Regions from separate parts of the Homo sapiens genome. Here all the other regions are reported to be linked to region 1. Evidence: microRNA targets listed by miRTarBase, many of them from high-throughput screens and not tested one by one. Region 1 holds a microRNA gene; each other region holds the end of a gene's coding sequence.
Evidence for each region. The annotated mature microRNA hsa-miR-6509-3p reads UUCCACUGCCACUACCUAAUUU and lies in region 1 at 4,203-4,224, shown strand. An mRNA with a match to its seed (bases 2 to 7 or 8) in the 3' UTR can be bound and repressed. Matches are read on the target gene's strand: a 7mer-m8 pairs with bases 2 to 8, a 7mer-A1 pairs with bases 2 to 7 and ends in A, and an 8mer does both.

Region 2: miRTarBase lists GRAMD1B as a target of hsa-miR-6509-3p. Seed matches in the 3' UTR shown: 7mer-m8 at 5,397-5,403, 8mer at 3,160-3,167 and 7mer-m8 at 2,917-2,923.
Region 3: the mRNA of ARFIP2 is a reported target of hsa-miR-6509-3p. The part of its 3' UTR that is shown has no 7-base or 8-base seed match.
Region 4: miRTarBase lists JMY as a target of hsa-miR-6509-3p. The part of its 3' UTR that is shown has no 7-base or 8-base seed match.

The regions. Positions count from the first base shown.
Region 1 is chr7:135,204,112-135,211,229 of GRCh38, reverse strand. MIR6509 (microRNA 6509) reads left to right here and starts at 4,152; the gene lies at 4,152-4,236. It overlaps WDR91 (WD repeat domain 91), which reads left to right. Exons shown (of 15, transcript NM_014149.4): 2 at 1,475-1,654; 3 at 2,232-2,439; 4 at 4,028-4,110; 5 at 5,172-5,302; 6 at 6,797-6,962. RefSeq lists silencers at 1, 4,161-4,320 and an enhancer at 1,172-2,371.
Region 2 is chr11:123,621,979-123,629,096 of GRCh38, reverse strand. GRAMD1B (GRAM domain containing 1B) reads right to left here. Exons shown (of 20, transcript NM_001387025.1): 20 at 1,330-6,591. The coding sequence ends at 6,502. Among named protein-coding and RNA genes, the nearest start is that of SCN3B, 29 kb to the left of the region's middle.
Region 3 is chr11:6,470,554-6,477,671 of GRCh38, reverse strand. It overlaps ARFIP2 (ARF interacting protein 2), which reads left to right. Exons shown (of 8, transcript NM_001376558.2): 8 at 404-1,153. The coding sequence ends at 559. TRIM3 (tripartite motif containing 3) reads left to right here and starts at 3,731. Exons shown (of 12, transcript NM_033278.4): 1 at 3,731-3,881. RefSeq lists a silencer at 3,605-3,834 and enhancers at 3,192-4,130, 4,131-5,070.
Region 4 is chr5:79,315,212-79,322,329 of GRCh38, forward strand. It overlaps JMY (junction mediating and regulatory protein, p53 cofactor), which reads left to right. Exons shown (of 11, transcript NM_152405.5): 10 at 789-1,099; 11 at 6,395-7,118. The coding sequence ends at 1,096. It overlaps LOC102724530 (a long non-coding RNA gene), which reads right to left. Exons shown (of 3, transcript XR_001742756.1): 3 at 1,798-2,423. Among named protein-coding and RNA genes, the nearest start is that of JMY, 83 kb to the left of the region's middle.

The DNA.
Region 1 (7,118 bases):
ATGAGGAACTGAGACCCTCAGACGGACAGGACCTGCCTGAAGCCGCCCCCCGAGTCAGGAGCATCGCCGAGGCTGGAGCCCCGATGCCCCGGCTCCTGGTCTAGGGTTCTGTCTCCACTCCAGCCTCCTTGGCCAGGATGGCGATGAGGTTTTAGGAGCCGAGGTTAGGTAGATGGTTGCGTTTTGGCAACAGATATTCGTGTTGGCTTCCAGTGGCAGTGGAAGCAAAGAAGTCTGCAGTCCAAAACGTTAGCTGCGTTCAAGTATCTGCGGTGTTTGTTTAAAATGGCCTCGTCAGGGACTCATCGGCAATTTTGCTTCTGCAGTTGTGGAAGACCTCATGGCACATTAGAGAAACCCAAACTTCCCCTGCTCTAAAATGATTTTCCATTGCGAGGTTCTTGGAATGTATATGTGTGTGATTTGTATGTTTGTGTGTACTGACTTCAATGAGAGGCAGTGAGCTAACAGCAAGAGCACTGGAGGGGAGTTAGGAGATCTGGTTTCCTGCCTGGCCAAAGTTAGTGGCTACTTAGTGGCAAAAGCAAATCATTTCACCCCTCTGGGCTTCAGTGGCCTGATCTATAAACTAGGGGCATTGGATTGGTATTGATATCCAAACCCTTTTCCAGATTCTGTACTCTGCTGTAATTGCTCCTCACAAGAAGGTGACTTCCTTGGCTGACACTCTGAGCAGCTACCACGGCTTCGTGGAACTTTGATGACTTGAAGGAGTCAGTCCATGCACCTCCTCATGATCCTTGGGATCTGGGAATTGTGGAGATTGTCTCATAGCTCTTCTTCACCCCACCCCCTTTTTTAAAAATGTGAGGTAACTGAAACTACAGTTAAGCAACACTGCCATTTTTTTTTCTTTTTTGACAGAAAGTCTCACTCTGTCGCTTAGGCTGGAGTGCAGTGGCACGATCTCAGCTCACTGCAACCTCTGCCTTCTGGGTTCAAGCGATTCTCCTGCCTCAGCCTCCCGAGTAGCTGGGATTACAGGCGCGTGCCACCACGTCCAGCTAATTTTTGTATTTTTAGTAGAGTCGGGGTTTCACCATGTTGGCAAGGCTGGTCTCGAACTCCTGACCTCAGGTGATCCATCCACCTCAGCCTCCCAAAATGCTGGGATTACAGGCGTGAGCCACGGTGCCTGGCCTGATGACACTGCCAAATTGATCAAGTAAGTCAGAGGCAGATCCAAGATCTGGAGCCAGATCTCTTAGGTTCTGGGCCAGAGCCCTTTTACACCTGAAATTTCCGTGCTTGCTAGAGGGTCAAACCACTTCTCTAACATCAGAAAATTACTGAAAAACCGTTGCATTAGTATGTTTTGAAAATTTTATAGATTGCTAACTTACAAATTTTTTTTTACACCCAGAAGCCATGACAAGAGGAAAAAGCTTTATTCCATGGAGGGGAGAATTCCCTTCTGTCCCTTACCACCTTCTCCATCCATGTTTCTCGCCAGGTGGATAAGATTGTGGACCAGCTGCAGCAGTTAATGCAGGTGTATGACTTGGCTGCCCTTCGGGATTATTGGAGCTACTTGGAGCGTCGGCTCTTCAGCCGCTTGGAGGATATATACAGACCCACAATCCACAAGCTGAAAACCAGCCTGTTTCGATTTTATCTTGTCTACACAATCCAGGTGCCTGTTGATTCAGGGGTTCTGCTTCCCTTGGTGGAAGGAGCTCTTTGATCCCAAAATAGATTTTCTTCCAGTTCCTAGGGAGGAATCTGTATGTGACTATGGGAAAGAGTGCAGCAGTTACAGTGCAATTATTTTTGACTGTTTTTCTTCTTTTTTTTCCTTGTCGTCATCTGTAGATCATCTGACTTGTCTTCCCCATTCCTATTTCCTTTTTTATGTTAAGCATGTAAGCTTAAAACAAAGGTGGTATTTTAAAGAATATAAGTAGCTGGGTTAAAGTTTGAGTAATAAAGATGATAGCTGACCTGGAGGAATGAGTCACTTAGTTATTTGAACATCAGCTAGGGATTAATTTTTAGGATGGGATTTATCATTAGAACTTCAGCTTAAACCAGCTTTGAAATGACAAGTTCCTTGAGAAAAGAGTGATGATTTCCTTTATATTATGGAATTTTATTTTGCCACTTACCTGGCAGGCTGATAGTCAAAGGTTGTCTGCTGTGCAATGATGAAGAGTCTTACCTCTGGATTTCTGTCTCTCCTCCCTCCTTGCTACCTCCTTGTGTCTTGGCAGACAAACAGAAATGACAAGGCTCAGGAGTTCTTTGCAAAGCAGGCCACGGAACTCCAGAACCAGGCTGAGTGGAAGGATTGGTTTGTCCTGCCCTTCCTGCCATCCCCGGACACCAACCCCACCTTTGCTACCTACTTTTCTCGACAGTGGGCTGACACCTTCATTGTGTCCCTGCACAACTTCCTGAGCGTCCTGTTTCAGTGCATGCATATCCTTTCAGTTGCCTGGGGCTGAAGGCCCAGCCTGAGGCACCCAGACCTCAGGATCAGTAGCCCGCTGGTCTCCATACAGGCATTTCTTCTACAAAAATGCCCAGGGACCATTTTTATGGGTCACATGAGGGGGCTGGACAAATTGTGGTTGTTTTTGTCAGTAAGCCAGGGAATCATAAATCTTAGTTCTGACACTGTGCTGCTGAAGTATTAGCTGACGTGTGGGCAGTGACAGTGGCAGCAGTGGGGTGCTAGTACTGGCTTTGTCAGCAGGCACTGGGGTTGGAAGGCAGCTGCTGCTTGGAGAAACCGGGCAGCCTTGAGAGTACCCTCTCTGTGCATGAAACGTGTTCCCGGGGATATACCTTTGCTGGGATTAGGTACAGATGAGAAGACTTCTTGGGTTGGAACTTCTGTCTGTGTTAGTGTTTGGGTTATTGTCTCTAATAGTAACTTCAGTGTTCCTCAAGTTGCCAGAGAACACAGTAGCTTTAAGAATATATATGCGGGTATTGGAGAGGGGGAATGAATGAGAATGCAGGTAAATAATTTACAGCCTACCAAGTGTACAAGCCAGAGCTCCCAAGGCCATTGTTCATGCTCCCTAGGCTGGAAATTTAGAGGAGGAGAAGGGAGTCTGGCTTGAATGGGGCTGGCTGGTGAGGCACTGATAAACTTGGGTGTTTAGAGGCCCACCCATGGGCAGGCGTTTTGGCCTCTGGGAGGAACACTTTCTGGTGGAGGTGGGAAGGGCACCTTTCCTGCCTTCACCCTTTCTGTGCCCCAGATGAGTGTGAATTCCACCCTTGCCAGAACTGCCTTGTTTCTTCCCCGTTGTTCCCTCTCTTCATCCTGAGGGCTCTCCAGTTAACTTTGTGGGCCCTCCAGTGAAATCGAAACTGTCACTCAAGATCTTTTCAGTGCTTCTCAAACTAGCTTACACACATATGGGCTCTAGTCCCCTCTCCAGTTCTGAGGCCCTGTCTGCTCTGTGCTCCTCCTAACTGAAGCTGCCTGAGGCAGTGGAGAAGGACCAGTATCCCAAGCTATAGACTGTCGTTGTTCTTGGGGTGGCCACGCAATCTGCAGAAAGCTTTCTCTTCTCAGTCCAAACCTTTGCCAGGGAGAGGCTCAACCTGGGGAGGCGAAGCCAACTGACTGGTCTTTTCTGCCTCATTGGCTGTATTACTGCAGAGCCACTGGCCTCCAGGGCTGCTTTTAGCTGAATGTAGTGACCTCACTAAAGCTCAGACTGGCTGTGAAGTCCACTGGATGCTAGCTCTTTGCTTCTGGTATTTGAGAGAAAATGCTTAGGTTTGGATTTATGTCCCCTCTGTGGGCTGGCCAGGCAGATGGTCATGCGTCTGTGAATCTGTCCGAATGAAATGAGGCCAGACCTAGAGAAAGTCTTAGAGACAAGACTGTAGGGAGCGACTATTTCATTAAGCCCGCAAGAGCCCACAGCACCGCTCCTATACTCTGTTCTCTGTGTCCCTGTGTCTCATGTGTTTTACTGGTGTGTCAAGGGTTTGGGAAGGACGTTTAAACATTTCAGGGGCTGGCTTATTCTTTAACTTCGTGCACCAGTCCCTGTGATCCTGAACTTTGATGCGGAGTGTCAGAGGACTAACCAGGTTCAAGAAGAAAATGAAGTTCTGCGTCAGAAGGTTTGTTCTGAACAGGCTTGCTCCTGAGGAAGTACTTCTGCTTTTTGTGTGTGAAATTAGGTAGTGGCAGTGGAACACTATATTAATCAGGTTTCCACTGCCACTACCTAATTTCTCAGATGGAAATGAGTCACCAGAAAGTCAGTATTGGGGATTTGGAGAGTAACAGTCTCTGAAAACCAGAGGCGAGATTCATATTTTAAGTCAGATATGTAGCATGAACAATATAGTAACAGTAATTAACTTTTAAGGAGAAAAAGACTATATGCATCCATGCCACCTTATAACTAACCTGTTTTCATGTGTCTGTTTTGTCTTTCCACGTATAGCTATATATGTGTGTATATATATATACACATATATATGTAAACTATATGTATATATATAAACTATATATACACACACACACATATATATAGTTTATAACCCATATATAATTTAGTTGTTCCTACTCAGCTATATGCTTCTCTAGTTTGATAAAACAATAGAGCCAGGGGACCCACATTTGCCTGTACATGTTGCCTGAGGAACATTTCTCTTTCCTGAAATTAAGATCTCCTTAGGTGATATTGTTAGGAAAAGGAAGATTATAGGCTGTTTAGGTTATGGGGTTTAAGATTCTTGGGATTTGGGGTGTGTGTATATGTAATTTTCTTCAGGCAAAAGGTTAAAAACGCTGTAGTTCATTAACAGGTTTTTTTTTTTTTTCCATTCCAGAGTCAGGCTTTGAGAGTTCTAAAGCCTGATTTTGTAGATTCTAAAAAGCAAAACAGGTTGGGTGGAGCTATTTTTCTCAGTGAATCTAGGAGGAAGCAAGTCAAATGATTAAAAAGAAAATGGGTTTTGGATTTCTAATGGTTTTTGGTTTTCTCACCTCATTGTTGTCCAGTGACAGCAGTCACTTTTCCCAGTCTGCAGTGAGCAGAGTGAGATGGGCCCCTTGACGCTGAGGCGAGTGGCACTCAGACCAGTGGGCTTGGATGCGATGTGTCTAGAAATCTTCCTCCGCAGAGGGAAGGTTAGGTGAGATCATTGGCTAACTCAGTCCCACCCCTGTATAGCTTTTTGCATTGCAAGCTGAAATCCACCGACTGAAGAAAGAGGAGCAACAGCCAGAAGAGGAAGAGGCCTTGGTCCAACACAAATTGCCTCCTTATGTCTCCAACATGGACCGCCTGGGGGACTCGGAACTGTGAGTGTGTGTGACGGCCCTTTCCTTTTCTTTGCCCTCTGTGCTCTCAGCCCCACAGTTCCCTCTGATCTTGCCTTGCCTGCAGTCCTCTGTGCCTGCTGAAGGAGAATTGCGGAAGAGCCTCCTGGCACACACTGCTCTTGCTTGAGAGCTTTATTTTTATTTTTAGAGATGGAGTCTCGCTCTGTCGCCCAGGCTAGAGTGCCGTGGCACAATCTTGGCTCAAAGCAACTTCTGCCTCCTGGGTTCAAGAGACTCTCCTGCCTCAGCCTCCCAAGTAGCTGGGATTACAAGTGCATGCCACCATGCCTGGCTAATTTTTTTTGTATTTTTAGTAGAGATGGGATTTCATCGTATTGGCCAGGCTAGTCCCAACTCCTGACATCAAGTGATCCACCTGCCTTGGCCTCCCAAAGTGCTGGGATTACAGGCGTGAGCCACCGTGTCCAGCCTTGCTTCAGAGCTTTATGAGTAAGGTCCCCATGGCCTCAGAAGTCCTCTAGGAGTTCTGAGCCTCCGAGCCTGTGGCTCTGCCTAGAGGTGGGGAACTGCACAGCTCTGCCAGCTCTACATCCAGATATGTGTAGTCAGGATAAATAAAAACGCAACCACTGTGGTAAAGTCTTGGGAAGGTTTTGTGCATTGGAAGGAGCATCTCATGTATGGAAAGATTGGTAACCACAGGTTGGATGCATTCCTCAGTAGAAGCATGCACCTCTCTGACGGTTTAAAGAGGAAGGCAGATTAGAGAGAGGTATTTGACCTTCAGAAACAGCCAGTTAAAGCAGAAGCCCCAGCTGGTGATAATAATAGTAGTGGTTGAAGAAACAGAGGTACACACAGGTGAGGAAGACAGTGATTGGTGAGTCACGATGCAAACCCAGGCAGCCGGATTCCAGACCTCCACATAGCCAAGTATTGCACCAGATGAAATAGCTCTAGTGGTGGTGCCAGTTCTTTCTGATGGAAATAAAATGCGAGCCAAATACGTAATTTAATTTTTTTAGTAGCTATGTTAAAAAAAAAACAAGATGAAGTTAATTTTAATGATATATTTTATTTGGCCTAGTATATTCAAAACATCATTTCAATATGTAATGGATATAAACAAAATGTTAATGAGCTATTTTATTCTTTTCATGCCAAGTCTTTGAATTCCAGTGTCAATTTTACATCTCTAGCACATCTTGATTTGGACTAACCACATTTCATTTGCTCAGTAGCACACGTGACCAGTGGCTATTGGACAAGACAGCTCTGAGTTTACTGTGACCCTCAAAGAAGAGCCGCAGACTTCACCCTTGTAACAGATAAGCTGCTGGCTCCCTTTGTGCAAAAAAATGATGCCAAGGATAATACCACCTTAAAGCCCAGGCTCTTGGACCTGACCCAGGCCTGGTCACTTAACGTCATCCATAGCCCGGGAGGTCTATGTTCTTGGTTTTTCCACATCCTGTTTCAGCCCTCTGACCCTGTGGTGTGTTTGCTGACCAGTGCCATGGTGTGCAGCCAAAGGAATGCCTCCCTCTCCCAGTCACCTCGTGTGGGCTTCCTGTCCTCGCTGCTGCCTCAGAGTAAGAAGAGCCCCTCAAGGTTGTCGCCTGCTCAGGGCCCTCCTCAACCTCAGAGCTCGGCCAAGAAAGAGTCCTTCGGTGGTCAGGTAAGCACAAGTCCTGCCTCTCTAACTCTGGCCAAGAAGGCCGTGACAGCTCCCTGTGCTTCCAGACCTCCTGGTCAAGTGTAGACTTGTTTGCCCTCCTTTTAGGACTGATTTCTTGGGCATGTTGATGAGATTCTGAATTGAAATCTCATTCCC
Region 2 (7,118 bases), not on the chromosome of region 1:
CAATCTGTGGATATGCATGAGAATGAAAACCATGTAATAGCCTTACATTAAACACACACTAAATGTGTGATCTAGCCTCTCCGCTTCCCTTTCCTCCTCTACCCCAATACAAAGGAATACAAGAGTCACTTATGTTCTTGCCTGACATCAAACAAGTTTCCTTACCAGGCATCGAGGAGCTCCCTGCAAGGCTGACCTAATGAAGGGAGGAGCCAATCTGGCTCTCAGCTCCACCAGTTTAGGTAACATAAAAGAAGAACATGGAGCAGTCTCTCAACATTCATCTTCCTGGAAGTGTTAAGGCCCGAAGAGGGAAAAGTTCTATAAGAAACCATCATCGGGATTCACAGTCCACCACAATCTCCTGCAACAACAGTACTACTCATCATAAGATTAAAAATCGGCCGGGTGCGGTGGCTCACACCTATAATCCCAGCACTTTGGGAGGCCGAGGCAGGTGGATCACCTGAGGTCAGGAGTTCAAGACCAGCCTGGCCAACATGATGAAACCCCATCTCTACTAAAAATACAAAAATTAGCCGGGCATGGTGGCAGGCACCTGTAGTCCCAGCTACTCAGGAGGCTGAGGCAGGAGAGTTGCTTGAACCTGGAAGGCGGAGGTTGCAGTGAGCTGAGATCATGCCATTGCACTCCAGCCTGGGCAACAAGAGTGAAACTCCATCTCAAAGAAAAAAAAAGGTTAAAAATCATCCCAACGCTTTGGTAAGCTGAGGCAGGAGGATCACTTGGGGCCAAGAGTCTGAGACAAGCCTGAGCAACATAGTGAGACCCCATCTCTAAAAAAAATATATAGCCTAGCATGGTGGTGTGTGCCTGTAGCCCCAACTGCTCAGGAGGCTGAGGTGGGAGGAACACTTGAGCTCAGGAGGTCAAGGCCGCAGTGGGCCATGAATGCACCACTACCTCCAGCCTGGGTGACAGTGAATCTCAAAACAAAAGAAAATATTTTAGTATAATACCAGCAGCCATACCAAGAACGATGTGTGTTTTAAATGTATTATCTCTGAAACACTGAGGCTTGGAGTGACAGATGGGGCATAAGGCCACACAGTTGGTAAACAGTGATGCTATACTTTGTACTCAGGTCTGACTCCAAAATTTATCCATTCCAGTTGATCAGGCGGCCTCCCTCCCTCCCGTGAGAAGGTGGATGGCTGCGTGTGTGCGTGTGTGTGTGCGTGTGTGTCTATAAGCGTGCCTACAAACACATGCCTTCAGGACTTGCTGTGAGCCTACTTGGGAAGACCAGAAACATCTGAGGTGACGAGCATTCATAGATCAAGCAATAAACACGCACACCATTTATTATTGTAGTTCAATACTTTTTTCTTTTTAATTCATACTGTACTTCCATGGCTCTAGCTACTTTACATTAAGATTTGGCTGGGCAGCCTTGTGTGTTTCTAGGTACTAGCAGTAAGTTTTCTGACCTTGCGCACAGCGCCAGGCAAAGTACAGTTATAGATCCAAATACAGATGGCCAGACAACTCGACTGCACTCGACCCGTGTTCTTTCCCATAGATGGCCCAGTGCAGGTGTTGGGGCTGCTCCCTCTGCCTCACCCCACTCCACCCCACGTCAGGATTATCCAGGGGCCACTATGGCCTCTGACCCATCCCTCCCCACCTTGGAGTCTAGGTTGAGTTGGGGAAAAAGCACCATGGGTTTGGGAAGATGGTCTGGTCCATGCAGAGAGTGGTCTGGCCCTTGAGTGCAGGGTAGGAAAATGTGGGGAGCCACAAGCTATTGTTGGCAAAAATGGCTGTTTTGACTATGCAATCTCAGCACGTGGCACCCAAGCCCCAGGCCGATGCCCCAGACAGAGCCAGCTGCCTTGCCTGGAGCAGAGGCCACCCTTTTGCTTCTGCAATGTCTTATTGTATTGAGAGAAGCAAGGAGGGCTGAAGAACGACAATGTTCTTTAAGCCTTCAGATGTTGGGGAGATCGTCAGCATCAGCTCCTCCTGGCCGGCAAGGTGCTGCTCATCAGCTGCCAAGACTCCAGTCCTGGCTCCAGGGCCTGTTGAGGATCTCCAGTCACAAGACCCCGGAGCTGTTGCACAGAACATCAAAACAGGGAGCTGGCTGGGCCCTTCACAGCCATGGCCAGAGCAGAAGTGAGGTAACAAGGCTGGGCAGAGAGGTGGGAAGGGAGCTCTCTAAATAGTGTGCAAGTTTCTGCTCTGCACTATGACAGCAAGCAGGGGCCTTAAAAGATGGCCTTCCAGGAAAATGCTCCTCTCAGACCCAAAATGCATCTTCTAGAAGAAAACACAGAGGTGAAGAGGATTGGGGCCAACCTGCTGGAGGTTGGGGGAATGAAAGTCAAGGATGTCAAGGATGTCAAGTGGTGAATGGGATGATTGTCCCATAGCCTAGAGACAAGTGGCGAAGGTGGGGAGAGTCAGGAAGGGGCCCCGGAGATTCCTCCTGGAGGAGGCAGGCAGGGTATGAGGTGTAGGGAGGCCAGAGCCCTGCCATCTGGGGGAAGGGAGAAGAGTGCTATTTCTCCTGGGGGCAGTAGGAGAAAAGGGCTGGCTTTGGCTGCCCTGAAGAGCTTAAAGAAGTGGCATGGTATGACACAGAAAGTACCCTTCTGGGACCACAAGCATCCAGAAAGATACTTCCCCTAGTCCTTTCTCCAGGATCTCATCTTAGGGATACTGCCTGGAAATGTAATAGGTATAGTTCAAGTTTGGGTGGGGGGCAGGGACACGGAGAGAATCCACTTCTCACAAAGCATTCCTCTTGAGCTCTCTTTGTCCTCCCCATGTCATTCCAGGTTCTTAGTGTCAGTGTTCTAAGGCAAACCCAAGGGTTTTAGCCAAAGCTTCATACTAAATCCAAACCCTATCTTAACAAAAGAGAAGTGCTAGAACCAGAAGTGGCTACTCTCCACTGTTTCTTCTACCAATAAAGAGGAAGGATGGATAGATGAAAGGCTGAACAGACCCTAGAGATAGAAGATGAGCTCCATTGAAAAGAATGTTCTTCTCCCAACTTAGAGAAAGTCCAAAGGAAGATCCCTTCACAAACTAGGCCAAAGAGAAAGAAACCCTTCTAAGTGAATACTGAGCAATACATCAAGCTCGATCTCTCTCTCTCTCTCTCTCTCTCTCTCTCTCTCTCTCTCTCTCTTCCACTGGGCCTCCCCAGCCCTCCTAGCCACCTAAAGAATAAATTTTAATCACCCTGGGTCTCCTGGGAATGCAGACACTGCCCTACCACACCTCTAAATACTGGGAAGCTTCAGCCTCTGGGCTTGTTCCCTCCTGGCAGAGCAATTGAGAAAGTCCACCCAGTCTTCCCAGCCTCTGGCCTAACCCCCAAGATGATGTCAAAGCTAGAACCTACCTTAAAGATGATCTAGCCCAACTCCCTCCTGTGACAGGAGGATACTGAAGCTCAGAGAGGGGGAGTGACTTGCCCAAGGCCACAGAGCTTAGTCAATGGAAAAGTCAGGACCCAGGCTCAGGTCTCCAAACCGTCAGTGCAGTGCTCTTACACAGAGCTTCAAGCAGCTGATCTTGCTGGCCTGAGATGTAATCCTCTTGTCCCCAAAGAGGTGGATGAGGAAGGGAGAGAGTCGCACCATGATTAGCTTGTCTGAGGCCAGTCTTGTCAATTCTTTCACAGTAAGCTGTAATGGAACTTTAGATCCTATAGCTGTTCTTCACCTTGTTAGAAACTGCAAATTCTTTAAAATTGAGTGCAAACTCTCAAACATTTTACCACATAAGTCATTACAGAAAGACTCCTGTGTGTCCCCAGTAAACTAAAACGAACAATAAAAGCACTGGCTGGAAGAAGTTACATAAGAAGTAGTGATGTTTTGATGCTCCCTTGTAGACAGCAACTAGCCAGGCAAATGGCCAGGAATACAATGCTATTTATTTGTTTCACTCCAAGACTTATCTGCAAGGGTGAGTTAAGATGTCTTTCGCAAGCTATTGACTAAGGGGGAAGAGATTTTGTTTGGGAATGAATAGAGTTGTTGGTTTTTTCCTGGTATGATAGTCAAAAAATTATTGGAACACAGAGAGCCTACAAGAGATCCATGATTCTTAAAGGACATTCCCTATGTGCACACATTGTCTAGTGGGTTCAAATCGCTAAAAAACCAGGAGGGCTCTTCTGACATACTCAGTACTGCCCTCTCTGCCACCTTTTCCTCCTGGGAATGGTCCTGAGAGGTAAAGCAGAAGCAGAACAACTCCCTGCGGCCAGGTCTGCTCTGTCACTTGACTCCCAACAAAGAACCCTTTTTAAGTCATCCCAAAGGTCCCACCGTGGCACCTTTAATAATTAAATAACTTAAGGAAATAATTATGTATGGAATAAATTCAGGAATCTACAAGTTTTGCATTCAAAACTTTCTGGGAATAGTTTTGGCTTCTGGCTGTGCCAAGGGGGAGATTTCCAGCAGTCTGCACCATGCCTCCTTCTTTGGCTCAGAGCCCATGAGCCTTGATCCCTACCAGTGTCCCTCACCCAAAGGCCTGGACAAGAACTGAACAAGGACCCACTGGGCTGTGGGCATAGGCACTCTTCACAGGGATTACATGAAACTGCATTTCCTCCCATCTCCTCTTCTAGGGGAGGAATATCCACTCTAGCTCATGCCCTGGAGCCTCCTCACCCTCCTCCCTTGGAGGATCACCTGGGCATGGACCTTCCTGTTTTCTGATCCTGCCCTTAGGGAAATACCAAGGCCTTATTCTCACATGGAAAAGTCAAAAACTGTAATTGCCACAGGGAATTAAAGGCCATTCTAAGAAAAAAATACAACTTTATCTTTGGGGTAGATGAGTGATAAAATCTTCTGTCTTTTGGGCTGATGTTCTGGGACATCTGGGACATCTGGGGTTTCTTCTGCCCCTGTGTCAAGAAGCCCAGGAGAAGAATAAGCAAGACTGAAGACCTCTGCATGCCAAACTGGCTATGACTCTTTCATGAATCTCCACAAGCTCTGCCTGGAGCTGGTGGGACTCTTTTGGTCATTACATGAAGAAACAGTAGTTAGTGTATGAGGGATGATGAATGTGCCCAGAGGGCCCCGTGAATTCAGATAAATGCATGGTGCTAGTGGGCCAATGCTGAAAAGGCCCTGAATGTCTCACTCTTTGAAGCTAGTGCCTTCTACTTCTTAATGATCTTACACCTCTGTGGGGCCAGAGACCAGAGCAGGATTTGTACTCCAACCCCCGCCAGAACCCCCATTGCCAAGTCTGAGAAACTCAGGATTGGGAATGGCTCCCGTAGGGCATAGATTTCACTTGGCCTTTTCCTGCCCAAACACATGCACCTTTGCCAAATCCTTCCCTCCAGTGGCTCAGATGCTTTTTCTATGTGCAAACTGTCTCAGACAGTCGTCTCCACTGGCTAATGTTGGTTCGTTCAAAGAGCAAATGAGGCTGGCAACCCATCTTGGTGCTCACCACTCACAGTGTTCTGTGGGTAGACCCTGCACCCCGGACGTGGCAAGGGCCTTCTCTCCCTCTCTCAAATCCTGGAGGGCCCAGCACACCCTGACTCATCCTGGAAATCACACTGACAGCTCTAAGTGAAGGCCTCAGAGCCACAGACCTGACTTGCTTAGAAGCACTAAAAGAGGTTTAATAAGGTCGAAAACGCTCCACCCTGGCTAATAAACAATGTGCTCTTAGGGCACAGAGAAACAATAGGACTTTAGGCACTAAAAAGTGACACTTCGCCCAGATCCAGCCTGGGAGAAGACCAGAGAGAAAGCGGGTGGGAAAGTAAGAAATTCCCAGCCCTTACTGGGTCCACACCCTACACAGGTCGGAGGAAGGTGCAGGGGTGATGGAGGAGAGTATCCTTCAGAACACGAGTCTCGGGAGCCTGCCACCACACAATGCAGCCTTCCTAGCTTTCCAAGCATCCTCTCCATCTGACACTCAGTACGGTCTGGATCAAGTGGGCGGCCAACCCTAGGAGTTTAGACTGGGCTCCCTTGATGCTTCTGTGTTCCCAAGAGAATGCCTGGGGAAGCCTGGGGTAGGGAAGAAAAGATTCTCTTTTATTTTGGAAACAAATCAAAAGGGGATTAGGGAATGAAGCACCTTAAGCAATGCCGTCTTAAGACTTCTTTTTGAGACCTTAGGGTCTTCGCAGGCATAACTTTGGCTCAACATTTCCCTTCTAAAAGCCAAGAATGGCCAGCAAGGGAAGGGGTGGGGAACAGAGGGTGGGAGGAGGGAGATCAGGGGAGGTCGGTGCTGAGAGGCGGTTCCTGCCCTCCTCAGCTGCTCCACCATAAGAAAACGCTGCTCCGGCCAGCACAGGGCGCGGGAGGGCCCGCTCCTTCTCCCTGGTACATAGGCATTATCTCTTTTTTAAAATCTGTATATAATATATATATTTATATTCTGTATATATATATATTTATATATATATATTTATATGGTCTATGTACATGTATTGCACAGGCCTCTTGCAGCCACCCTGTTCCTGCCTTGTCAATGATAGCGATTCCTCTTTTCTTCACTTTCCGACGTGTAGTCGCGGGACCTGATGCCGTTCTGAAGGTTGATGAGCGAGTCCTTCATCTGCAAGACAGAAAACCCCACCCCAGGCCTGGGTCTGCGCTTTTAGTGGGATTCTCCACCGAGCAGCCCTCTCCCCACACCCGCCTAGGGCAGGCCTCCAACCACGCCATGGGGCTGAAAAGAGTCGGGCACCTAAAGCAAGGGTGGTTCTCAACACTGTTTCAAACAGAAAGGGGACAGTCAGGCTGGGTGCAGTGACGCACACCTGTAATCCCAGCACTTTGGGAGGCAGAGGTGGGAGGATCACTTGAGGCCAGGAGTTTCAGACCAACCTGGGCAACACAGAGAGACCCCATCTCTATAAAAAATTTAAAAATTATAGCCAGGCTTTGTGATATGCACCTGTAGTCCTAACTACTCAGGAGGCTGGGGTGGGAGGATGGCTTGAACCCGGGAGTTTGCAACTGCAGTGAACTATGACTGCACCACTGCACTCCAGCCTGGGCAACAGAGCAAGACCCTGCCTTTTAAAAAGAGAGAGAGACAGAGGGGGAAAGGGAGAGGGAGAGAGAAAGAAAAGAAAAAAA
Region 3 (7,118 bases), not on the chromosome of region 1:
CACTAACCTTCCCCTCAGACCCTCCCCATTATTGAATGAGGAAATGCAGCCTAGCTGGGGAGTAGAGTGTTCACCCCCTCAACCCCTGGGCCTTTCCAGATCACCCTCCCTCCAATTCCTGGCCCTTTCCTGTTGGAGGATTTGGCTGCTGGTCCCAGGAACATAACTGGGAAAAATCACCCCCTGAGCTGGGGTACAAAAACCCTAGGCCCACAAATCCAGTGAGGTTTCTTCCATCATACTGACCCTTCTCCTTTGACTCCCTGGGTAGAGTTCAGCCCCTACCCCAAAAGCACCATCAGAGCAGAGTCCTTGTGCCCCTGGTCTGTGCCTGGGCTCAGGCTCATAGACCCTCAAGAAGGGCGCCTGAGTCCAGCCTTAGCTGACCCTGCTGGACCCCCAGATCAAGGTGATGCACAAGCAGCTGCTGCTCTTCCACAATGCTGTGTCCGCCTACTTTGCTGGGAACCAGAAACAGCTGGAGCAGACCCTGCAGCAGTTCAACATCAAGCTGCGGCCTCCAGGAGCTGAGAAACCCTCCTGGCTAGAGGAGCAGTGAGCTGCTCCCAGCCCAACTTGGCTATCAAGAAAGACATTGGGAAGGGCAGCCCCAGGGTGTGGGAGATTGGACATGGTACATCCTTTGTCACTTGCCCTCTGGCTTGGGCTCCTTTTTCTGGCTGGGGCCTGACACCAGTTTTGCCCACATTGCTATGGTGGGAAGAGGGCCTGGAGGCCCAGAAGTTGCTGCCCTGTCTATCTTCCTGGCCACAGGGCTTCATTCCCAGATCTTTTCCTTCCACTTCACAGCCAACGGCTATGACAAAACCACTCCCTGGCCAATGGCATCACTCTTCAGGCTGGGGTGTGCTCCCTGACCAATGACAGAGCCTGAAAATGCCCTGTCAGCCAATGGCAGCTCTTCTCGGACTCCCCTGGGCCAATGATGTTGCGTCTAATACCCTTTGTCTCTCCTCTATGCGTGCCCATTGCAGAGAAGGGGACTGGGACCAAAGGGGTGGGGATAATGGGGAGCCCCATTGCTGGCCTTGCATCTGAATAGGCCTACCCTCACCCACCCACCCAGTTTAATTGTGCTTAGAGCCCAAGAAGATTGGGATCTAGCACTAGGAATAAACCTTTCATAAAAGCAGGCCCAGCGAGGTCAATTTGTCGGGGACTCTAGGAGGGTGGCCTGGGTGGAGACAAGCTCAGTCTAATCAAACACCAGAACCCTATCAAGTCAAAAGAGCTGGGGCCAGGCAGCTGAAGTCACAGGTTTCAGAGATGGTTTGAAGGCCCAGTCTTCTCTCCCAGCCTCAGTTGGAGCCAAAGCTTTGTCCTTTAGCCAGCACCAAGATAGCTATGGATCTTAAGAGCACCAGATCCAGAGGGGGTTGGGTTTGCTGACCTTCATCATGCATTCATTCATACAGCAAATATTTACTGAGTGCTTTCATTTGCCAGGGACTGCGTTAGGCCCTGGGGAAACATCAGTGAATAAAACACGGTCCCTGCCCACAGTGCTTAGGGCCTACTGAGGGAAAGAAGTAACCAGGCAACTACAAAACAGTGATAAGTATTAGGATACAGAAGTACAGAGGGCGCTGTGGGAGCACAAAGGAGGGGCATCTGGCATGGACTGGGGTGGAAATGGGGATGTCAGTTTGAAAGCTGAGACCTGGCCAGGTGCGGTGGCTCACTCCTGTAATCCCAGCACTTTGGGAGGCCGAGGCGGGCGGATCACCAGGTCAGGAGATCAAGACCATCCTGGCTAACACGGTGAAAACCCATCTCTACTAAAAATGCAAGAAAATTAGCCCGGCACGGTGGCTGGCGCCTGTAGTCCTGTAGTCCCAGCTACTCGGGAGGCTGAGGCAGGAGAATGGTGTGAACCCGGGAGGCGGAGCTTGCAGTGGAGCCAAGATTGCGCCACTGCACTCCAGCCTGGGCAACAGAGCGGGACTCCATCTCAAAAAAAAAAAAAAAAAAGCTGAGACCTGAAGGGTGAGTAGATGACAAACAGGCAGGGTAAAGGGAAGAGCATCCCAGGCAGAGAGGCTAGCATATAATGAAGGCTCTGAGTAGGAACTGGGAGGAATTGCTTGGAATGAAAAATGAAGAGGGAGTGGCTAGATGAAGACTGCAGGCTGGTTAAGGACTTTTGCCCTCTGGAGAAGGAGCTGAGAAGTGTTTTAAGCAGAAATTTGACTGCATGGGAGAAGTATAGAGTTGAGAAAAGTAGTCCTCTGAGGCTTAAGATAGTGTCATCTAGACTCCAGTTCCCTCATCTTGGGTAGCATAGTAGCCCCAGCCCAAAACTGCAAGCATGATCCCCGTCTGGGTTTCCTTCACAAGCACTGGAGCATCTTGTGCTATGTGCTGAACTCAGGTGGATAAGAGGTTGAGGCGGTTCCCAAAGCTCCTGCTGCACCCAGGTGTTGAGCCTAAATCTGAACCTTGTGGAGAGGTCACAAGAAAGATCCCTAACAGCACTTTGGTTTAGTCAGGGCTAGGTGTCATCACCTGTATGCCCTTTGGCCAAGGAAACCAGAATTTTTCAGGATTTTCCCCACCTCTGGAAGGCTGGAGGAAGGGGAAGACCCACTCAGCAGATTCCCATAGTGCAGGGATCCTCACAGGCATGACTTTGCCCTTTGTCATGGATACTGCAGCTCCCAGACAGTCTTCTGGGCTTTGATCAGCCTGCAATCATCTGACTAGAGCTTGATTTTTGGGGCAGGGAAGGTGGTCCTTATATGAGCTGCCACTTAATGGGCCACTGGGGATTTTTCAACATGAAAGGTACCGAGTCTCCAAATGCTGGTTGTAGGGCCTAAAAACAGGGCTCAACTCCAGGTTCTGCCACTTTCTAGCTGAGTGATGAGGGCTAACGTCTGGGGAGCAAGATCCCTATTTTTTCCCATTGTAAAATTGGGCTAATAAAAGATGCTACCTACTGACTATTAAATAATATATGTAAAGTGGCTAGTTCTGTGTCGGCACATAATAACCACTCAGTCCCTGTAAACTGTTACAATTATTTTCCACTTGGGGCTGCTTTTTGCACAAGGCGATGATTCTGAGAATTGTCCAGTGTCTTTGGTGTGAGGAAGGGAGTCGCTGGATGGTCTGAACCAGAATTTCCTCAGGAGGGGGCTCCTGAAGCGCCCAAAGCCTAATCAAATCCCCCACCTTTCTACCCCTTAACTCCTTCTCCCAGAGTTCTGGGTACTGCCCTTCTGCCGCCCAGAGATCGTGCTGAGGTACAGACGGTTTCTACGTCTTCCTGGTCAGCCGATAGACTAGCATATTCCATAGGAGCACTCCAAGGAAGCCGGAAAGGGCGCCTCCAGGAGGCAGGCGGCCCAGACAGGCTCCCAGAGTCCGAAATCCCTGCTGCCCCAGCTGCCTTTTCTTGACGGAGTCTCATCTCAATCCCTGAGACCGACTACACCGCCCTTCCCGGAGCCGGAGGCAGCTGGCGGAGATCCGGGATCCGAGATCCGGGATCCGGCTCGCCGGCCCGCCGGCTCCCTAGCAGCACCAAGGAGGCAGCGTCCGCAGGAGGTGGAGGCGTTGGCGGGGGGGCGTGCGGGTGCGGTAGGGGTGGGCAGGCGGGGTGGGCGGGGCCTCCGCGGCGGCGGGCGGGGCGTGGGTGGGTCTTCCCTACTGGAGTCACCCCCTCCCCCGGCCGGTCCGCAGCCCCGCCCCGGCCCCTCCCTCCGGCCTGTGCGGCTAGTCCGGCGGCGGCGCCGGCGCGGGGACAGGCGGAGGCGCGGGCAGGGCCGGGCGGACGGGCGCTGGCAGCAGTAGCAGCGCCGCGGGCCCTTCAGAGTGGCCGCAGTCCGAGCTTTGCCCTCGCATCCTGTTCCAACGCGGTGAGTGCGACGGGCGGGCCCCAAGGGTGCGTTTGTATTCCTGTCAGCCCGGGTCTGGGTCGGAGCGTCTGTGGGTGGGGGCACAGATGATTTTCAAAAGCTGTGCCTCTCTCTGCCCACGTGAGGCGTGTCCATGTCCGTGAGAGCAGCAGGGGGATTCTTCGGGCTGTGGCTGCTCACGTGAGGTCCCTGTTTTGAGGCGGGGAGGCGCGGGTGGATGGGTGATGGTTCCTTAGGGGAGCGCGGGGTTTGGGAGCTTGTGTGTGTTGGCGGAGGGTGCTGAACGCTGCGGCCGAGGGTGGTGGTGGTGGTGCGTGCTGAGTGGGACTCTGGAATATTGTGGCCCATCTTGTCTGAAGGGCTCTTTTCTCCCTGGTGCAGACACCTCCACCCCTTGCTCCCCCACCCCCACCCTACCCCACCCCCCGCCCCTTCCATCCTCTGGTACCCACAGGCCCACCAGTCAGGATGGAGGACACCCTTTCCTCCCCATGCACTGCTCTGTGGACAGAAAGCCTCATGTGGAGGCTGTTTTTTTGTAGGAAAGGACCCCTCTGGTTCTCCTGTAGCCTGAGCCCTGCCTGGAGGACCCCAGGCCCCTCCCTGGTTCTGACCTCCTCCCTTCTGCAATTGGCTTCAGATCCTGGGCTGCAAACCTGCAGGGACAGATGGTTGCAGGTTGGAGGGGCAGGCTGCACCCCAGGGAGGTCAGTTCGACTGAGGGCAGGCCCTGGGCTTGTTCTTGGTGTGGGGGTTCTCTGATGTGGACAACAGAAACTCAGGACTGGCCCTAGCAGGAAGATCACATCTGGGAGGTCACAGCAGGTGCAGAAAACATCACAGGTCTCCCTTGGCCAGTCTGTCTAGCTCACTGGTGCCCATTCATCCCCTAAGCAGGGGATGATTTGCTGCAGAATTGGAATCAGAGCTGCAGGCCTGACAGTAGCCCTGCCTCCTTGGGCTTGTATGCCTCCAGTGACAGAGCACTTGCTACTTTCTGCTGTGGAAAAGCTTCCTTATATTAAGCAGAGGTCTCTCTTCTTGGGACTTTATTCACTTGTCTTGTTACTGCCATTACTTTTGCATCTCTCTCTGATGAAAGGGAACTGCAGAGATTTAAACAGAGCTCTCCTGTAACCAACATATACTGAGTACTTCCTGTGTGCCAGGTACTGCCACAGCCACTTAGGAGACAATGGCATTCTTGCCGAGAGAACTTGAGCAAAGAGTCCATCGTTGGGATAGTATAGCCCAGGTTCAGAAAAGCAGAAAAACCATATGGTTAGAATAGAGAGCGTTCATAGAGTGTCACAGGTGACTTAAAACTCAGCAAACATTTATTTACGGGGGCGAGGGGGCAGGGGGAGTGTGGAGGGGAGGCAACTAAGACCATCCTCTAACACATTTAGCCTAACAGTGGAAACTAGAAGTCAAATCATCGAGGTAGTACAAGATGGGATTTAATCATGGGCTCATGGTACAATCTGTGGAAGCCCTTGGCTTGAGAGGGAACCTTGGGAATCTCAGATTTTGAGAAAACATCCCTCTTCTCCCAATTTACAAATAAGGGAATGGGGTTGGAACTTACCTAGAGTTTCACCTTGTGTTAGTGGAGTTAGTTACAGCATTAGGACTAGATCCTAGATCTCCTAACTTTTTAAACCTAGCCAAATTTCAGAGGCAGAATTGAGGATGTAGTCATAGCTTGTATCTGAAAGGTGAAAGAAAAGGTGTAATTGAGAAGACTACCAGGGTTCTCGCTTGTGTGGGTGGGTGAGTGGTGGTGCCTTTTATTTATTTATTTATTTAGATTTATTTATTTTTAGCATATTTATTTTTATGCTTTTAGGATGTAAAAGCATCATGTATAACCTCTGCCTTTTGGAGATTTGCAATCTTGTCCATCTGTTCCATATTTCTTAGTTTCTCATGTTTCTGTTTCTTTACTCACTGTTTTCCCAATGTACGTATCAATGTCCTATTTGTCTCTCAAGACCCAGCTCAAATACCCCTTCCTCTGGAAGCCTTCTTTATTCTGTACCATCCTCAGAGTTAGGTACTTCCTCCAGTTTGCTGCTGTAGCAATTTGAACATGTCAATATCATGGTACTTATCACATTGTAGTTACGTGTTTCCATTTCTGTTTCTCACATTAGTCTAAAAACTTGTGAAAGACAGGGAGTGTGTCTGATTCAGCTTTGTGTCTCTATTTCACAGCTGAAGGACCTGGCCCACAGTGTGCCCAGAGAAGTTTGATTGAATGGTTCATTCACTTTACTCAGTCTGGCAATGTTGGGGGAGATGGCCATGAATTTCATTGCTTTCCTTCCCTGCTAATCTTATTTAAAGGATTCATTGGCTTTAAGGACTTTGCCTCATCCAAGGCTTCATTTGTTTCAGAGAAAGCCCAAAGACTGTAACCTGCAGTCATTTGTCATTTTTTTGAGGTCTCAAATGATCAGATAAACCTGGAAGCTAGTGAGTAGACGTGAGTTATTTTAGCAAGCAAATGAGCCTAGCTGACCTCTCGCATCCATTTTCAACAATGCCTTGGTTACCTCCATTCACAACTGTGTAACTCATGTGTACTGGGAATCCTGTGAGATTGTAGGAGGAAGTCCTGGGGAAAATTAATGCTATTTGAGAATTTGGAGAAACTGAAAAGCCTTGAAACACATCCTTTGCAGATGTCCAGGATCTAGTGGAGTCAGCACTGGCTGTCTTCATTTGTTCACAATCAGCTTCTTGCTTGACTCCCTGCATCTGGCTTCCTGTCCTCCATCCCCTGAAAACCACATGCTCTGAGGTTAATGAAAGCCTCTTTGGGGCTTAAATAATGGGACCTCTGCAGCATTTCACTCCCTTGTTCATGAAGTTCTCTTCTCCCTTGGCATTCATGACATCTGTTTCCTGATTCTCTTGCTTCTCTGGTTGTGCCTTCTCAATCTTCTTTGCAGACTCTGCTTCCTGGGCCTATCTCTTAAATATTGAGGTTCCTTGGGACTTGGTGATAGACCCTCCTTTCTCTCTTTACCCTCTCAGGGTAATGTCATCCACGCCCATGGCTTCAGGAACCATCTCTGCACCAACATCCACATTCATGTCTCCAGGCCAGACCTCTCTCTTAGGCTTCAGCGTATCTTTCCAACTGCCAACTGGACCTCTCCACTTGAATTACATCCCATAGGCACCTCAGATTCATCACATTAAACAGTGAACTCTAGCTGGGTGCTGTGG
Region 4 (7,118 bases), not on the chromosome of region 1:
AGGGAAGACATTGGCAGGATCATGTAACATTTGTTCATACATTTGTTGAGGACTTTTGTGTATTTGTATAAAGAAGCAAAGAAGAACAGGGAGTAATCTGTTCAACTTACAATGTGACAGATGTGCCTCAATAAGGTTACTATTTTTTTTTCTAATTTTTTTTGTTAAGAGAGATTCAAGCACAAATAAAATTATTTCTAAAAAGAGCAGAGAATAACCCTTGCCTTTTGCCTTTAAGGAATTTGCATTTTGCATGGGGAGAACATTATATAAATGTTACATATTACTTGTATATTACATTTTAACCTGAAGGACCATTCTATAAAACATTTCTTGATGTAATCTGAGTAGGATTTCACATGTAAAACAACTAAATGAAAAAAGCACAGTCTCCATAATAAACAAAAATTAATTTTTAAAAACAAAATGTGTAACCCCATCACTCTGAATTTGGGTGGAGCAACTGCAATATGGAAATCCTTTGGGAATCACACCCATAATACTACTAAGACCACCTCCCAGTTCCCAATCTGGTCACTTCTCTCATGTAGGAAATGATAGGAATACCAACAGTACCCACCATGGATTGGGTCTTGGGATTTTCTAAAAAGAAGGATAATTAGGATCCCTTGTGTTCTGATCACCTTCTGCACACATTTCATGATCCATTTTGAAGATGGTGTTTCAGCGTCCTGTGCTTTCACAGTTGCGAACGGTAGAGGTTATACAGTTTCATTCTAATTAAGTGCAGTCCTAACTGTAATACTGTTCTGTTTCATTTTCCAAAGTGAGCTCACCCATGGATGAGGTGCTAGCCTCCTTGAAGCGTGGTAGTTTTCATCTGAAAAAGGTTGAACAGCGAACTCTGCCTCCTTTTCCTGATGAAGATGATAGTAATAATATCTTGGCACAAATAAGGAAAGGGGTAAAATTGAAGAAGGTACAGAAGGATGTTTTGAGAGAATCCTTCACACTTCTACCCGATACAGACCCTCTAACACGGAGCATCCATGAAGCTCTTAGAAGAATTAAAGAAGCATCCCCAGAGTCAGAGGACGAAGAGGAGGCTTTACCTTGCACAGACTGGGAGAACTAACAAGTAAACGGCCTTATTGTCTTTAGTAGCATTCAGTAATACAGGTTTTATATCGGATGATGAGGTTTGGGGTATTTTTTATTGAGCCTGAGGCATATCGTTTGTTTTATAACCCAATTTTAGCATGGATCACAAATTTATGAACTTCAGGTTTTACTTAATTCTGTAGTTTCTAGAAACTTAAGATAACTTTTTAATGATTATTGCTATGTAAATACTATTTTTAAAAATGTCCTCCTCATTAAAAATTTCTGCTATACAGCTGTAATTGCAAGTAAAGTGACAGTCTCATTCTTGCCCTAAAAAAACAGAAAAGGGCCTGGCACAGTGGCTCACACCTGTAGTTCTAGCACTTTGGGAGGCTGAAGCAGGCAGATCACTTGAGGTCAGGAGTTCAAGACTAGCCTGGCCAACATGGTGAAACCTCTTCTCTACTAAAAATATAAAAATTAGCCGGGCGTGGTGGCGGGCATCTGTAATCCCAGCTACTCGAGAGGCTGAGGCAAGAGAATCACTTGAACCCAGGAGGCGGAGGTTGCAGTGAGCTGAGATCGTGCCACTGCCCTGGGCAACAGAGTGAGACTCAGTCTTAAAAAAAAAAAAAAAAAAAAAAAAGGCTTTCCAGGTTCAGTGGTTCGCTTCTGTAGTCCCAGTTACTCAGAGGTTGAGGCATGAGGATCTCTTGAGCCCAGGCGTTCAAATCCGGCCTGGGCAATATAGCAATACCCCGTCTGTAAAAAGAAATCAATACGTCAATTTTTTTTTTAATGCAAAGCCTTTTCTGACAAAGTATTTCAGTAACAAACTGTTATGCACACTGAATTTTGATGTCATGTTAGCTGACCTCAAAGGAGTTTTCTAAGATCATTCTGGAAAAATTGTTGCATTGTCTGATTATTTAACTTTCTAAACCCTTAAAAAAAACTACTTATTGTCACAGTTACTGTATTATCTAGACAAATTTGCAGGTATCATTAATATATAAAAATTATCTACATATCTAATGAATACTCCTATACATATTAAGATTCTCTTTGGTTACACATGTAGCATTCTCCTAATATAATAGAGAGCTATAGTCTACTACATTTTAATATACTAATTATAGAGTAATATGGCACAGATTACACCAAATATATAGAAACATTAAAGATAACATGGTATAAATTAAACAGTATATCAAATTTATAATGATGGTAACTGAAATGTTGTAATTTGTATAAAATTTATAGAGTATACAAACATGTTCTATTAATTATTATTCTTTCTTGATGGAATATGTTTCTCTAGGCTTCAAACATTCACCAAAGTAGGGAAGACTTGAGTCCTAGAAGGGAATAAGTAAAGGAATAATTAATTCATGTGTTAGCCCTGTGAATTATTTTTGTTGAATTTCTTTTTTTATTTTAGAGACAGAGTCTCCCTCTGTTGCTCAGGCTGGAGTGCAGTGGCACGTTCATGGCTCACTGCAGCCTCAACCTTCTGGGATCAAGCATCCCAAGTAGCTGGGACTCCAGACACATGCCACCATGCCGGGCTAATTTTTTAATTTCTTTGTAGAGACAGGGTCTCCTTATGGTTGCCCCGATTAGCATAATAATTCTTAAAACATGTTTGATCATAAGAATTAACTTGGGGAGCTTATTAAAAATGGACATTCTGTCCTTGACTTAAGAATTCTGAGTAGAACAACAAAGAAAAAAAATCTTTTTTTGACAGGGTTTCACTCTCTCACCCAGGGTGGAGTGCAGTGACATGATCTCGGCTCGCTGCAAGCTCCACCTCGTGGGTTCAAGTGAATCTCGTGCCTCAGCCTCCTGAGTAGCTGGGATTACAGGCGACTGCCATGATGCCCGGCTCTTTTTTCTTTTTTTTTTTTGTATTTTTAGTAGAGATAGGGTTTCACCATCTTGGCCAGGCTGGTCTCGAACTCCTGACCTCAAATGATCTACCCACCTCAGCCTCCCAAAGTGCTGGGATTACAGGTGTGAGCCACCATGCCTGGCCCAAAAAAAAGAATTCTGAGTAGATCTAATGTATATGCAAGTACACATCTAGATTTTGAAGACATAATATAAAAATGTAATGTATGTCAGTTTTTAAACAACTGATTACATATTGAAAGATTCTATTAGTTACATTAGGTAAAATATTACTGAAAGCAGTTTCACCTGTTCCTTTGGGTATGGGTTCATTAGGTAAATATTCCTGTAGTACCTCTCCACCAGCATCTGCATCAATCAATAACTTAAAAAGGGTAATATTACATTCACCATGATTCAGCCAACATTCAGTAGTAGCATTATCCTGCTTTTTTTCCTATTATGTATACAGTTACATGTAACAGTCACTTTGTATGACTTATGTTTTTGGATCCCAAAGTAACTTCGAGTTATTTTTGCTTGTACATATGTCCACTATGCTTTGTAAAGGAATATATATATATATATATATAGAGAGAGAGAGAGAGAGAGAGAGAGAGAGAGAGAGAGAGAGGGATGCATATCAGTTTGTGAATGTCTAGACTCTCAGGTATGTCTAACTGGGAATCTTTTCCATAGTGGATATTTGTAGGTTGTCTCCCACTTTACAGTTCTTACTACCATGTGTTGTTTCCTTCTGCTGTAGCTTCTCAGGAAGCTGCTTAAGCTTGTGCCTAAAACTACCATCTTTGCACTGACTAATTCCACAGCTGGACCTTCACATAAATGTGTGTTTAGCTCTTTCATTACAGATGGTCCACAGTGGCCCATTCACAGCACACCAGCAGCTGCTCAAGTCAGCCTATCCTTGTCTGTCTCCTCCCATCCCACCATATCCTGCCTAACCCTAGACATTGCATCAGCATTTTGTATACTCAAGTGGCTGGGATGTTACTCATAGCTTCTGGCTACTAATTTAGCCTTAGTATCAGATGTTAACATGGTGCATGGTGTATACACTTTGAAAATTGCTTAAAACTTTTTTCGGGGGTGTGGGAGACGGCTGATGGCTGGAATATGTGGTACAATGTTGAGAGAGAAACAGTGAAACACTTAGAAAATATATGAGCTTGGAAGTTTGCAGTCTCCCTTTACTAAATGTGTGCTAACCCAGAAGCAAACCATAGACTAGTATGGACTGATTAGGCAGTGATGAAGTAGCTGTGTATCACTACTTTGTGATCATGGAGACTAAAAGGCTGTGAACTTTTTATCTACAAATGGCTAAGAAGGCTTTACCGCAATTTGTATTTCCCATTAATTTATTAGATTCCTTTTTTTTTTCTCTCTCTCTTTTTTTCTTTTCTTCAAGACTGAGTTTCACTCTTGTTGCCCAAGCTGGAGTGCAGTGGTGTGATCTTGACTCACTGCAACCTGTGCCTCGTGATTCAAGAGATTCTCCTGCCTCAGCCTCCGGAGTAGCTGGGATTATAGGCGTGTGTTACCACTCCCAGCTAATTTTTGTATTTTTGTAGAGATGGGGTTTCACCATGTTGGCCAGGCTGGTCTCAAACTCCTGATCTCAGGTGATCCACCTGCTTCTGCCTCCCTAAGTGCTGGGATTACAGGTGTGAGCCACTGTGCCTGGCCAGATTTCTTGATTATAGATTTTGTCATTAATGTACTTATATACTTTTAAGAGCTAATTTCTTGAATATTCATAAAGTAGGTAATGAAGGTCCCTTGTTCTGCCTTGTTCGTTCCCCTCTGAAACTCTTCTCTTTCCAGAGATAGCCATAGTCATGCTCAAGGAAATTTCTTAAAATGTATGTAATTACATAGAGGTTTAAAATAAGTTTCAGGCTGAGTGTGAACTTTAAGTTTCAGGCCTGTAATTCTGCAGTACTTCAGGAGGCTGGGGGTGGGTGGATCACTTGAGCCCAGGAATTCAAGACTAGCCTGGGCAACATGACGAAACACATCTCCACTAAAAATACAAAAAGTAGCTGGGCGTGGTGGCTCACACCTGTAGTCCCAGCTACTTGGGAGGCTGAGGCAGGAGGAAATCTGTCTCAATAAATAAATAAGCTTCTAGTTTGTTTCCTGTGAGAGTCTTTTTTTTTTTTTTGAGATGGAGTCTCACTGTGTCAGCCAGGCTGGAGTGCAGTGGCGCCGTATTTGGCTCGCTGCAATCTCCATCTCCCGGGTTCAATCTGGGATTACAGGCGCACCACCATGCCCAGCTAATTTTTTTGAAGTTTTAGTAGAGAGGGGTTTCACCATGTTGGCCAGACTGGTCTCGAACTCCTGACCTCAACTGATCCACCCTCCTCAGCCTCCCAAAGTGCTGGGATTACAGGCGTGAGCCACTGTGCTAGGCCCCTGTAGGAGTCTTCTAAAGTAACTATAGCAATGTAGTTCAAAGGAAATATAGTTTGAGACATGTAATTTTAAAATGTCCAATAGTCACATCAAAAATGAAAAGGAACATGTGAAACTGATGTTTGTAATATTTTATTTGACACAATGTAGCCAAAGTAGTATCCTTCAACACATAATCAACATTAAAAACTAAGGACATTGCTTTCTATTTCTTTTTTTCACACTAAGTCTTCAAAATTCAGTGTATGTTTTATATATACTAGTAGCACATCTCAGTTTGAATGCTAAGGATCTGATACTTAATGAGAAATGTCCTACCAAAACAGCAAAATTGTATTTAATGGAAAAATAGTACTTACTGTTTTAGATTTTTAAATCAAACTGGATTTAAATCAAACTAGATCAGTCACACTAGACACATATCAAGTGCTCATTAGCCACATGTAGCTACAGTATTAGAAAATGCAGAACTGTATTAAGTTGGTACTTTATTCATGTTCCTGTCAGCTTTTATCTGAAGAGTATGTCTTTTATATAAATGCTCCTGTGCTTTGGGTACGCCCCATAGATCTTAAGCACAACACTTTTCAATAAAATGCCCGGGTGAAGTATCCATTTAAAGATTGGTATTAATCCTGTCCTCTAAATGTTAGTCTAACAAAAACAGTTTCTACTGCATTTTGAAGACACCATTTAGTTGTTCTTACTCTAGTAGCAGTTTATGGGGCAAATAGTTTAGACTGAATTTACCTTTTTAGTATATAGTTTTCATACAGTGTTAGAGTAAAAATAATAAAAATGAAAATCTAATAGTCTTTTAAAAGTGATCAAAATCTGTATTTAGATTATTTTGTTTTCATTTTTACTGCTTTAAGAATACAGTCATGGCCTTTTGTAAAAAATGTCTTTTTTACACTTTTTGAGGGAACGTAAATACACTGTATCTTTAAAGGGTCTTTTTTTTAATGGTCTGTATTATTTTGTTTGTAAACAGGTGACATAACAGAAGAAAAATATCATTCAAGATTGGTTCTGATTCTTTTGGAAAATGACAGTTTAAGCACTTGGTTCCTCAGTTGGATAACATTAGATCCAAAGTTCATTGGTTCAGTGGTGTGAAGAAAGGAAGCACAATTGGCAGGTTATCACTTTCCAGTCGTTCCAATAGATGATGGTTAACATGAATTTTACATGTGCAATGTTCCTGACTGCAATGAAGAAAAGGCCTTCTGGAGATTTCTGTTTTTTAAGCACATTCTCCTTCCATCCACATATTTACATCCTTGTAATGGCCAGTTAAGCTAGGGCTTGCTGTAAGTTGGAAGAACACTGGGTTGACAGAGATCTACTGTGAGCTGTATTGGGACTGCTTTGAGAACCATCTTTCAATGCACTGAAAAGTCATCTGAAAAAATAGCTTCTTCCATATCAGCTTATATTAAATACTGTGACACTCTGAGAAAGTTTATCATCATGATAGCTGTAAGTCAGGCATTAAAATCAAATGGAAATACACCTAAAATGTCCGCATTACTCATTTCCAAAGGATTTTTCATAAAGATGTTCAGCAACATCTGAAAAGCTGCATTTATGGAGATACATCTATTAATATGTTCACAACATGATACATTTAACATGGCATATTTTTAGGAGTCTTATACTTTGTAAGGTTTTGAAGTTTCCGTGCTTTTAAATCACTCTTCATATTTCTTGAATTT